Linked DNA regions of Homo sapiens: region 1 is linked to region 2. Evidence: fine-mapped expression QTL. A gene starts in region 2. The other region holds a variant in brackets. All regions are shown on one strand. Distances are between the middles of the regions.

Region 1 (5,508 bases), 29 kb after region 2:
AGAATGGTCAGTTCTGCCCGTTTTTTCATTTTGAGATGGAGTCTCGCACTATCACTCGGGTTGGAGTACAGTGGCGCAATCTTGGCTCACTGCAACCTCCGCCTCCCGGGTTCAAGCGATGCTCCTGCCTCAGCCTCCTGAGTAGCTAGGACGACGCATGTGCCACCACGCCCAGCTAATTTTTTGTACTTTTAGTAGAGACAGAGTTTCACCATGTTGGCCAGCCTGATCTCAAACTCCTGATGTGGTTTACCCGCCTTGGCCTTCCACAGTGCTGGAATTACAGGAGTGAGCCACCGTGCCCGGCCAGTTCTGAACTTGTTTCCTGTTGGGAAGGGAGCCCACAAATTGGGGTAATTTCAGCCCCTCCTGTTGACAGGGTGTCACTTCCCACTGGCACCTGTGACCCTGCAGTTTCATCCACCTCTTTTCAACTCCTCAAACCTGAGGCAGCCCTCAGAACTCACAGCCAAGGGCCATTTACAAACCTAAGGCAACGTTTGGAGACTGGGAGGGGCTGTAATTCACAGGGCAGAGGACCCGGGCTCCTGCCACCCTGGAGGAGTGGCCTAGAGCCTCAGGTCACACTGGGTCTCCCAGGTGTGAGGAGGGCGCCTTGGTGCGTTTGCTTTTTTGGGAGCCCTACATTTCTCTCATCTGCGATTCTACAGTTCTAGAATTGTCGCAGTCCTGCCGTTCATCCTGTGTCCCTCCAGTGCACATTTTATTAGTAATTCTTGTTTATACTCTTGCTGCTTAAATTCTAGTGTGCCGAGAAAGTTTTTCTGATTTCATCGAAAGAAGAAAGGCACACAGTTCTACCATATGACAGATTTTTAACAGATATTCTAAAAAAAATTAACTTTCCACTGTTTTAAATGTACTAGTTGTCATTGTTTCATATAATTCGTAAAGGATTTCTGAAGCCCTTGCGTTGGTTTTAACTTTGCTACGGTAGACATGGATCTCCCAGAGCCGGCCTGCTGTGGAGGGACTTCCTGGGTATCAGGGTCCCCACGGCTGGCGGGCTCAGGACATCGGGGGGGGGGGGTGTTTGGGACCCCTGCTGCAGGCATGGCCTTGGTTGTGTTTCAGGAGGCTGAGGCAGGCAAGAACGCGGGGACTTGTAAACGTGTTCCCGGCAAGTGCCGTGGTCAGACGCTGGAGCCTCATCCTCCTAGAGGACAGGGATGTGGTTGTTGGAGGGGTAGCCGAATCCACCTGGCTGGGGTTTCCTGCTGCACAGTGTTGACCCGGATGCCAAGAAAGAGATGGATGTGGCCAAAAACATGCCCTGGCCTTGCACAGCTGAGCTGCCAGGCAGTCGGCTTATGGGAAAGGCATGGTGGCTCTTGGGAGGGCTTGAGTCGCCCACTCTGGCGGGAATGGACCCCCGGGCCCTTTCAGCTCCGTGGTTGGCATCATGAAGTTGGACTTGGCCAGGCTTGAACAGCTTGGATCCGATTTTAATGTGATTTCTTTACTTTTTTTTTTTTTTTTTTTTTCTGTCAAGACAAGGTCTTGCTCTGTTGCCCAGGCTGGAGTGCAATGGCGTGATCTCGGCTCACTGCAACCTCCACCTCCCGGGTTCAAGCAATTCTGCCTCAGCCTCCCGAGTAGCTGGGATTACAGGCGTGTGCCACGCCCGGCCTGGCTTTGGCGTGATCTCTGTCAGTGCAGGAGCGGGTTTCTGTGCTTGGCACCGACCCTGGCTCTGGGCAGTGTCGTCCTGCACTCTGGTTAGCTCAGCCTGGACGGGTCAGGTGACCTTGGGGAGCAGGTTCACGGTGCGGTGCCTTTCCCCGGGCTTGCAGTGGAAAAGGAGCACAGCCTTTAGGTGTTGAATACACCTGAGAGCCAATCAAGCGCTTACTGGGAAAGGGGAGGAGACGTGGTCGCGGGCCGGGCGCGGGTGGCTCACGCCTGTAATCCCAGCACTTTGGGAGGCCAAGGCGGGCAGATCACCTGAGGTCAGGAGTTCGAGACCAGCCTGGCCAACATGGTGAAACCCCATCTCTACTAAAAATACAAAAATGAGCCACAAAATTGTGGCAGGTGCCTGTAATCCCAGCTACTCGGGAGGCTGAGGCAGGAGAATTGCTTGAACCCAGGAAGCAGAGGTTGCAGTGAGCCAAGATTGTACCACTGCACTCCGGCCTGGGTGACAAGAAAAAAAAAAAGAAACATAGTCGCCGTTGGAAACGGCAGTTGCAGTCGAAGTTGCTCAAGTTGCTGTGTGAAGTTTCAGCTGCTGCCATTTGTCTGCTTCAAGGGAAAAGCTCCAGGGCCATCCTGGTTTCTGTGTGAGGGGCCCTGAGGTGGGCAGCGCCTCTCCTGGGCTCAAGGTGGTAGAGGGACCCACCCTGCAAAGAAGAGGGGCAGCCCCTCCACCTGTGTCCTGGTGGGTGTCAGGCTGGCTCATGTGCACCGGGTGAGGCACATGGAAACCGGGGGTTGCCATAGTGAGGGTGGAGATAGAGGCTGCTGTAGCGTCTGGCGCTGTCCCTGTGTGCCAAGGTGATCGAGAGGGCCACCCTGCTCCTTGAGGCCCCAACCACATGAGTGGTGCCAGCCCGGCTCCCCAAGGCCCAGCTGATGTCACCTAGGCAGAGCAGAGCGGGGCTGAGCGCAGGCAGGTCTCATCTCTGCTGTGATAGGGAGCGCATCCCGCTGCCCATACCCTCCTGCCAGGCTGCAGGTCCCTCCCCGGCCCGGGGCAGCCCGGCGTTGAGAGATGGAGCCCAAAGACCAGCCACTAATGGTGAGCGCCCTCCCTCGTGTTCCCGCCCCCCCAGTCTGCGAGTGCCCGACGCCGCCTCCCAAGCCTGCAACCCCGGCGACCCCTCTGCTCTGTTATCAGCCCGGTCTACTCCCCAACTTTCCCTCGCTGGGAGCTAGCTGCCCCGCTCTTCCCCACTGCCTCCGCACCCCCGCCTTGAGCCTCCAGACACCCTCTCCACCCCTAATCCCCATGCTGCTGGCACCTGGGTGTGCGGGCTCTGGGCTCCCCAGCCCCCTCCCTGGGCCCAATCCAGGCCATCTGCTGGGGGACTCAGAGCCTCCGCCAACTGGACAGCGGTGAGCTGAGCTGGGGACTTGCCCCAGGGCTGTAGCTGGGTAAAAAGAGATGCCAGTCATGACTGTCC[C/T]TCAGCCACAGCTGCTGTTTCTACCAAAAAATGTGTCCCTTTTATAGAGGGGGAAACAAGCGTCCTGGGGCCACAGTTACTATCCAGCTGGGTGGGTTTGAGGCCGGGATCTGGCCCTCAGAATAGGGAGTGGGGATGGCAAGGCCCCCAGTTTCCCCTTGGGGAAGTTTCCCATGAAGGAGCTCAGCATCTCTTCTGGAGGTGGCAGGACTGGGAGGCAAGGCCTTGGGCAGGCGCTCCCTGCTGTGTGCCTCAACCTCCCCATCTCCTCAGTGAGGGAGGCCATGTCTTGTTGGGGGCACGGGCAGCCCCGTGGGAGTGAAGTCAGAGCCCACCCTGAGGGGCACGGGGCTGAGCTGCTGCCTTCACCTCTTCACAGAGACTGAGCAGATCCCAGAGCAGCCGCCCTGGTGACTGCCTGCAGGTGGCACTTCGAATCCACCCGCTCAATGACGCAGAACTGAAGGAGGGAGCCGCGGTCATCGCCCACAAAGTGGGGGACCAGGTGAGGCTGGGGCTCAGGGGGCTCCCTGCTGTCACAAGCTCACAGATGGGGCTCTGTCCTGGAGGTGTGGCTAAGACTGACACCATGCCCACCCCACTGGGCCCAGTTTCTAGTCAGGGTTCGGGGCACACAAAGGGAGAGATGAGTGCCACCAGGAGAATACAGCAGAGCCCGTGGGGGTGGGCAAAGTCAGGGCAGGGGAGCAGGCTGGAGCCCCCCAGCAGGAGCATGTGGCAGGGCCACAGAGCAGGGAGGGGGCTGGGAGGAGGGCAGAGCCTTCAGCAGGCCTGGCTCTGAAATTGTGTGGCTGGAAAGGGCCTGGGTGGCTGCAGCTCAGCAGGGAAGGGCGCCAGCATGCTGTCCAGCACGGGGATCTCTGCCACTTTGAAGCAGGCTCAGAAGCCAAGCTGTTGCCACAGGTTAGGGATGTCTATGGCCTCGGTGGTCACTCATAAGAAGAAATGCCCAGTGTGGGGTGGAACTCAGTGTCGCCAAGTGGATCAGGTTTTCCCGTTCGTCATTAGAGAGGCAGCTTCATAAGGAAGGAGACATGGCCCCTGGGAGTCATGTGCACTCAGGGGCAGGGGACCCTGGGTGTGTCAGAGGGAGCTCCCCGCTGGGCAGGGGGGCACCAGTCCTGGTCCCAGGTCAGGAGGCTCAGGGCATCGTCTGCAAGAAGATGAAATGGACGGCCGGGCGCGGTGGCTCACGCCTGTAATCCCAGCACTTTGGGAGGCCGAGGCGGGCGGATCACGAGGTCAGGAGATCGAGACCATCCTGGCTAACACGGTGAAACCCCGTCTCTACTAAAAATACAAAAAATTAGCCGGGCGAGGTGGCGGGCGCCTGTAGTCCCAGCTACTCGGGAGGCTGAGGCAGGAGAATGGCGTGAACCCCAGGGGGCGGAGCCTGCAGTGAGCCGAGATTGCGCCACTGCACTCCAGCCTGGGCGACAGCGAGACTCCGTCTCAAAAAAAAAAATAAAATAAAATAAAAAAAAAAAAGAAGATGAAATGGACCAGGCGCGGTGGCTCATGCCTGTAATCCCAGCACTTTGGGAGGCTGAGGTGGGTGGATCACGAGGTCAGGAGATCGAGACCATCCTGGCTAACACGGTGAAACCCCGTCTCTACTAAAAATAAAAAAGATTGGGTGGGCATGGTGGCAGGTGCCTGTAGTCTCAGCTACTCAGGAGGCTGAGGCAGGAGAATGGCATGAACCCGGGAGATGGAGCTTGCAGTGAGCCGAGATTGCGCCGCTGCACTCCAGCCTGGGTGACAGAGCGAGACTCCGTCTCAAAAAAAAAAAAAAAAAAAAGAACAACAAAAAAAAAGAAGATGAAATGGACAGAAGATCAGGTGCACAGACATCCCCAGGGGGAGTGGACTGCAGAGGGGGCAGGTGAATCAGTGCTGAGTTCACGGAAAAGCAAACGAAAAAACCAGACAGGCGTTTAATTCGAGGGGAGACAGGCTCTGCAGGAAAGGACATGGCAGAGGGGGTCGAGACCCAAGGAATCAGCTGAGAGAGTGGGGACAAGTAGGGTGGGAGAGGACGGTGGCTTCATAGGATCTTTGCAGAGGTCCTTATCCTTTGCATGATGCACCTGCATCATGGATAAAAAGAATGGAAGTTGGCCAGGTGCAGTGACTCACACCTGTAATCCGAGCACTTTGGGAGGCTGAGGCTGGTGAGTCACTGGGGTTAGGAGTTCGAGACCAGCCTGACCAACATGGAGAAACCTCGTCTCTACTAAAAATACAAAATTAGCCAGGTGTGGTGGTGCACGCCTGTAGTCCCAGCTACTTGGGAGGCTCAGGCAGGAGAATCACTTGATCCCAGGAGGCGGAGGTTGCA
Region 2 (5,000 bases):
AAAAAATACAAAAAAAATCAGCCAGGCGTGGTGGCGGGCACCTGTATTCCCAGCTACTTGGGAGGCTGAGGCAAGAGAATGGCGTGAACCCGGGAGGTGGAGCTTGCAGTGAGCCGAGATCGTGCCACTGCACTCCAGCCTAGGCGACAGAGCAACACTCCGTCTAAATAAAAAAAAAAAAAATTGTCATCCCTTATTGTACAGATGCGGAAACTGAGGTGGAGGCATTAAGTGACCTGCCCAAAGATACACCACTGACAGCATGATGAGGAGTAGTCAAACCTGGTACTAGGCATGGGAAGACTCTGCTTCTTTTTCGCTCTTTTAAACACCGTTAGGATGGGATGGGTGTGGTGGCTCATGCCTATAGTCCCGGCACTTTGGGAAGCTGAGGGAGGAAGACTGCTTGAGGCCAGGAGTTTGAGACCAGCCTGGGCAACACAGTGAGATGCTATCTACAAATAAAGAAATTAGCTGGGCACGGTGGCACATACCTTCAGTCCCAAGTACTTGGCAATGTACTTAATGTCACTGAACTGTACACTAAATTGCATATTAAAATGGCTAGGCCCTGCGCGGTGGTTCACGCTTGTAATCCTGGCACTTTGGGAGGCTGAGGTGGGAGGATTCTCTTGAGGCTGGAAGGTCCCGATTGCAGCGGCGCTGTGATTATGCCACCGCACTCTAGCCTGGGCAACAGAGCGAGACCCTATCTCTGAAAACAAACAAAACAAAAAAACTATAGGATGAAATATACATAAAATTTACCTTTTTGGCATTTTATTTTATTTTTTCGAAGACAGGGTCTCGCTATGTTGCCCTGACTGGTCTTGAACTCTTGGGCTCAAGTGATCCTCCTGTCTTGGCCTCCCAAAGTACTGGGAAGAGAGGTGTGAGCCACCGCGCAGGGCCTAGCCATTTTAATATGAAGTTTAGTATACAGTTCAGTGGCATCAAGTACATTCACCATGTTGTACCATCACCACCGTCATCTCCAAAACGTTCTCATCCTCCCAAATTGAAGGTCCGTCCCCGATAAACACTCCCCACTCTCCACCCCAGCCTCTGGGTACCACCTGTTTTATTTATTTATTTAATTTTCGTAGAGATGAGGGCTGGCGTGCGGGGGGTGGTGGTGCTATGTTGGCAAGGCTGGTCTCCAACTCCTAAGCTCAAGCGATCTTCCCACCTCAGCCTCCCAAAGTGCTGGGATAACAGGCGTGATCCACTGGGTTGTTTTCTAGGATGATTAAGACATCCCCCAACCAGTGGTTGTCCTCCACTCCGGCAAAAAACAAGATAGAAGCCACATGCACCCAATGCCCGTCCCGTGAGCACCCGCGCAGAGCGAACCGCTCCGGTCCCTCCGGAGTCAGCCTCGAGCTCCACGCGGCGAGGACCCGCCCCCGCCCCCACGTGACCCGCGCTGTCCCGCGCTGAAGGCGGCGGCCTCGGATGGACTGAACCACTGTGAAAGCCCGAATGGGGGGAAACAGGCAGTGACGGCCGCTAGGGAAGGACTGGGGGTAAGCGATTAAAGAAACTTCCATACATTTTTGTATCGCGCCAGGCAGTCGTCCTTCTAGTCGTGTGGGCCCTCTCTGGCTCGCCCCGAATTCCTTTTCTATTTTGAAGTAGTCTGTCCTTTTGCTCAGTCAGTAGGCGAGTCCAAGTGACAGACACGGACAGGGGGGACTTTAGTAACGTAAACTAAACGGTTTCCCTAGCGAAAGGCTCAGACGCCCTGAGCAATCGCCTGTTGAGTCTCCACTCTTCCAGGGTATTAACTGTTGAGTTAGAGGACATTTTCCTAGCATTCCGGGTACTAAAATCATTTCTTGTCCCCGCCTTCAGCTCCACAAATAGTTCAGTCCCGCCCCGCAGCGTCCGACGGGAAAGGAAAGGGGGAGGACGCCATGTTGGACGGAACCATCTGCTGCCACACATGGGGTGGTCAATGCTCCCATGAGTTTACTGATGCACAGAAACAACCTTGCTGAATGGAATTAAGCACTTTCTTGTCACAAATATATCAGTTTGATGATTTTCGGGCGCGGTCTTGTGGATGCGAGTCCTCTCAGGGTCGTTCGTGAGGCCCCAGGGCGTGGGTGCGCCCCCCGCCCCGCGGCCTTGGTGCGGCCTCCCCGTCGCACGCACATGGCTGGGCTGTAGCCGTCGCGGCGCGCGGTGCGGCCTGGGAGAGTCGGAAGCGCGGCGGCCGCGGAGCCCTGCGAGTAGGCAGCGTTGGGCCCATGCAGGACGCGGAGAACGTGGCGGTGCCCGAGGCGGCCGAGGAGCGCGCCGAGCCCGGCCAGCAGCAGCCGGCCGCCGAGCCGCCGCCAGCCGAGGGGCTGCTGCGGCCCGCGGGGCCCGGCGCTCCGGAGGCCGCGGGGACCGAGGCCTCCAGTGAGGAGGTGGGGATCGCGGAGGCCGGGCCGGAGTCCGAGGTGAGGACCGAGCCGGCGGCCGAGGCAGAGGCGGCCTCCGGCCCGTCCGAGTCGCCCTCGCCGCCGGCCGCCGAGGAGCTGCCCGGGTCGCATGCTGAGCCCCCTGTCCCGGCACAGGGCGAGGCCCCAGGAGAGCAGGCTCGGGACGAGCGCTCCGACAGCCGGGCCCAGGCGGTGTCCGAGGACGCGGGAGGAAACGAGGGCAGAGCGGCCGAGGCCGAACCCCGGGCGCTGGAGAACGGCGACGCGGACGAGCCCTCCTTCAGCGACCCCGAGGACTTCGTGGACGACGTGAGCGAGGAAGGTGAGGGCGCCCGGGGCGGGGCTGGCGAGCGGCGCGGGAGCGTGGCTGGGGTTCCCGAGGTGGGAGATATCGTCGGGCTGTGCCACCGGTTCGTGCAGAAGTTCCAGCGAGGGTGTCCGTGTGTTCCTGAGAAGCCACCGAGGGAGGGGTTCCCGAGTGCCCTGGAAGTGTTCTGAGAGCCCAGCGCCTCCCCTTTTCTTTCCTGAAAAAGGGGACAGGGTGGAGCTCACTTCGGGAGCCAGGCATTTGCATGACAACCAGAAATCTGAGAGGGTGGGAGAGGGCACATGGGGTACTCCGTTATGGCTGGGTGTGCTGTGAGTGTAGCAGCTGGGGGTACGGCAAAAACCGAAGACCCGGTGGCAGGTTTGCGGGTCTACGTGTCCCCAGAGCTGACCAGTCAGACCTCCCAAGGTCTGGATCGGAGGAACAGCTTGTGGCAGAGCCGGTGATTTTGTCCTCCTGCCCCTCAGAATTGTCCATCTCCAGAGACTTCCTTAGTGGGACAGGCACCCTGTGAAATTCCAGTTTGATTTTTCTTTATCTCTTGCGCTAAATCTATAAAGAGAGTTATTTTTCCAGGTTTTAATATTGCCGATAACAGCCAGCTTTGCCTTCATCTCAACCTTGATTGGATTTACAGGCATATTTTTGCTTCCTGTCTCAGAGATTTTTTCCTGAAGCTACTTCTGATGAGAGCTGGTCTCATTTGTTTTTCTTTTGTTTTTTAGCTCTCTTAAGCCTTTAAGTTGGGAACACATCAGCCTCTGCAGATTGGCTAAGTTGATACTAGAGTGAGAAAAATAAAAATACCCTTGCTGATGTAGCCAGCGATACACCAGGACAATTTCGGGAATAACATGGAGTTGCCAATTTATGATTTAAACGTATTTTTAAAAGGCTATCAGAGGGCCGGGCTGGGTGGCTCACGCCTGTAATCCCAGCACTTTGGGAGGCCGAGACGGGTGGATCACGAGGTCACCATCCTGGCTAACACGGTGAAACCCCGTCTCTACTAAAAATAAAAAAAAATTAGCCGGGCGTGGTGGCGGGCACCTGGATTTCCCAGCTACTCTGGAGGCTGAGGCAGGAGAATGGTGTGAACCTGGGAGGCGGAGCTTGCAGTGAGCCGAGATCCTGCCACTGCACTCCATCCTGGGCGACAGAGCAAGACTCCGTCTCAAAAAAAAAAAAAAAAGAAAAAGAAAAAAAGGTTATCAGAAATACAAGTCAGCCAGGTGTGCTGGTGCACACCTGTAGTCTCAGGTACTTGGGAGGCTGAGGCACGAGAATCACTTTAACCCAGGAGGTGGAGGTTGCAGTGAGCCTAGATCCCACCACTGCCTGGGCGACAGAGTGAGACCCTGTCTCAAAAAGTGAAAAATTAAAAAATAAAAACGCTGTCAGTTACTGTGACCATTACTATATTACACTTTTTTTTTTCATAAAAGACATTTTAGCATGAAAAGCAGGAAGGACACCACAAACTAAAGACTTTGGGAACATCTAGTCTACGCCCCTCAGTCCTGAGGAAACTTGTCCCTGAAGGTGGAGTAGGCTGCTGAGAATTCCCAGTGGGTCTATACTGCTTGGCCCACCAGACTCTCCTGCTCAGAACAGTGTTCTTTCTAACGCTTCAATTGTTATTATGGTTTAAAAATCAAAACTTTTGGTTTAATGATTATTTTGAGCCCTTGGATATTCTGCTACTTTTTTAAAAAGCATTATTTGAGCCCATCGAATTCACAGATTTCTAATACGTAGATTACTTCTGGAATTGGGAAGAGTCAGAGGATGCTAATATGACGACAGGGTTGGCCAGGCTGGGTGACGGCTGTGGGTCCTCAGCGGGCCCACGTGGCCCTGAAGGTGCAGTGTTGGCCAGAGTGACAGGTGAGGCATCTGGTCCTGAGGACTAAGGCTCAGGAAGCCGACTTTGTCATGGCCCTCCTGGTTGTGGTAACGCAGGTTTTGTGCTTTATGAGAAGAGCTGCCCTTCAGGGTCATTGTGCAAGACCGTAGGTGACTGTATCAGTTCTTTCCAGAAGGGCCAAGTCTTCCAAGGAGCAGGCCAGAGGTGGCCTGGAGTCCCTGTCTTGCTTTATTACTTTTTTGGTACAGATTAGCTTCTCAAACTGTAATCATCCTTTCAGTTTAATGTTTCAGCTGATCCAGGATTTTAACTCTAAATGTCTTTTTTGGCTCATTAACTATTCTTTCTCTTTCTATTTGCTATTTAGTGTTGAGAA

Direction of the effects. Alleles are on the strand shown, and positions count from the first base shown. SD is a standard deviation of normalised expression in the study named.
For the expression in spleen of the gene that starts at base 2,158 in region 2, T is the high allele of the variant in region 1 and C is the other (small effect, 0.36 SD a copy in GTEx).

Evidence for each region. PIP is the estimated chance that this variant, and not a neighbour inherited with it, causes the effect.
Region 1: its variant is fine-mapped to the expression of EIF3B in spleen (GTEx, PIP 0.91).

The regions. Positions count from the first base shown.
Region 1 is chr7:2,381,022-2,386,529 of GRCh38, forward strand. It overlaps the pseudogene KIF19BP. Among named protein-coding and RNA genes, the nearest start is that of CHST12, 20 kb to the right of the region's middle. The variant C/T (reference allele first, on the strand shown) is at 3,147.
Region 2 is chr7:2,352,670-2,357,669 of GRCh38, forward strand. EIF3B (eukaryotic translation initiation factor 3 subunit B) reads left to right here and starts at 2,158. Exons shown (of 19, transcript NM_001037283.2): 1 at 2,158-2,751. The coding sequence starts at 2,253. It also overlaps a transcript of SNX8 not described here. RefSeq lists enhancers at 949-1,504, 1,175-1,244 and silencers at 2,045-2,184, 2,365-2,454, 2,505-2,614.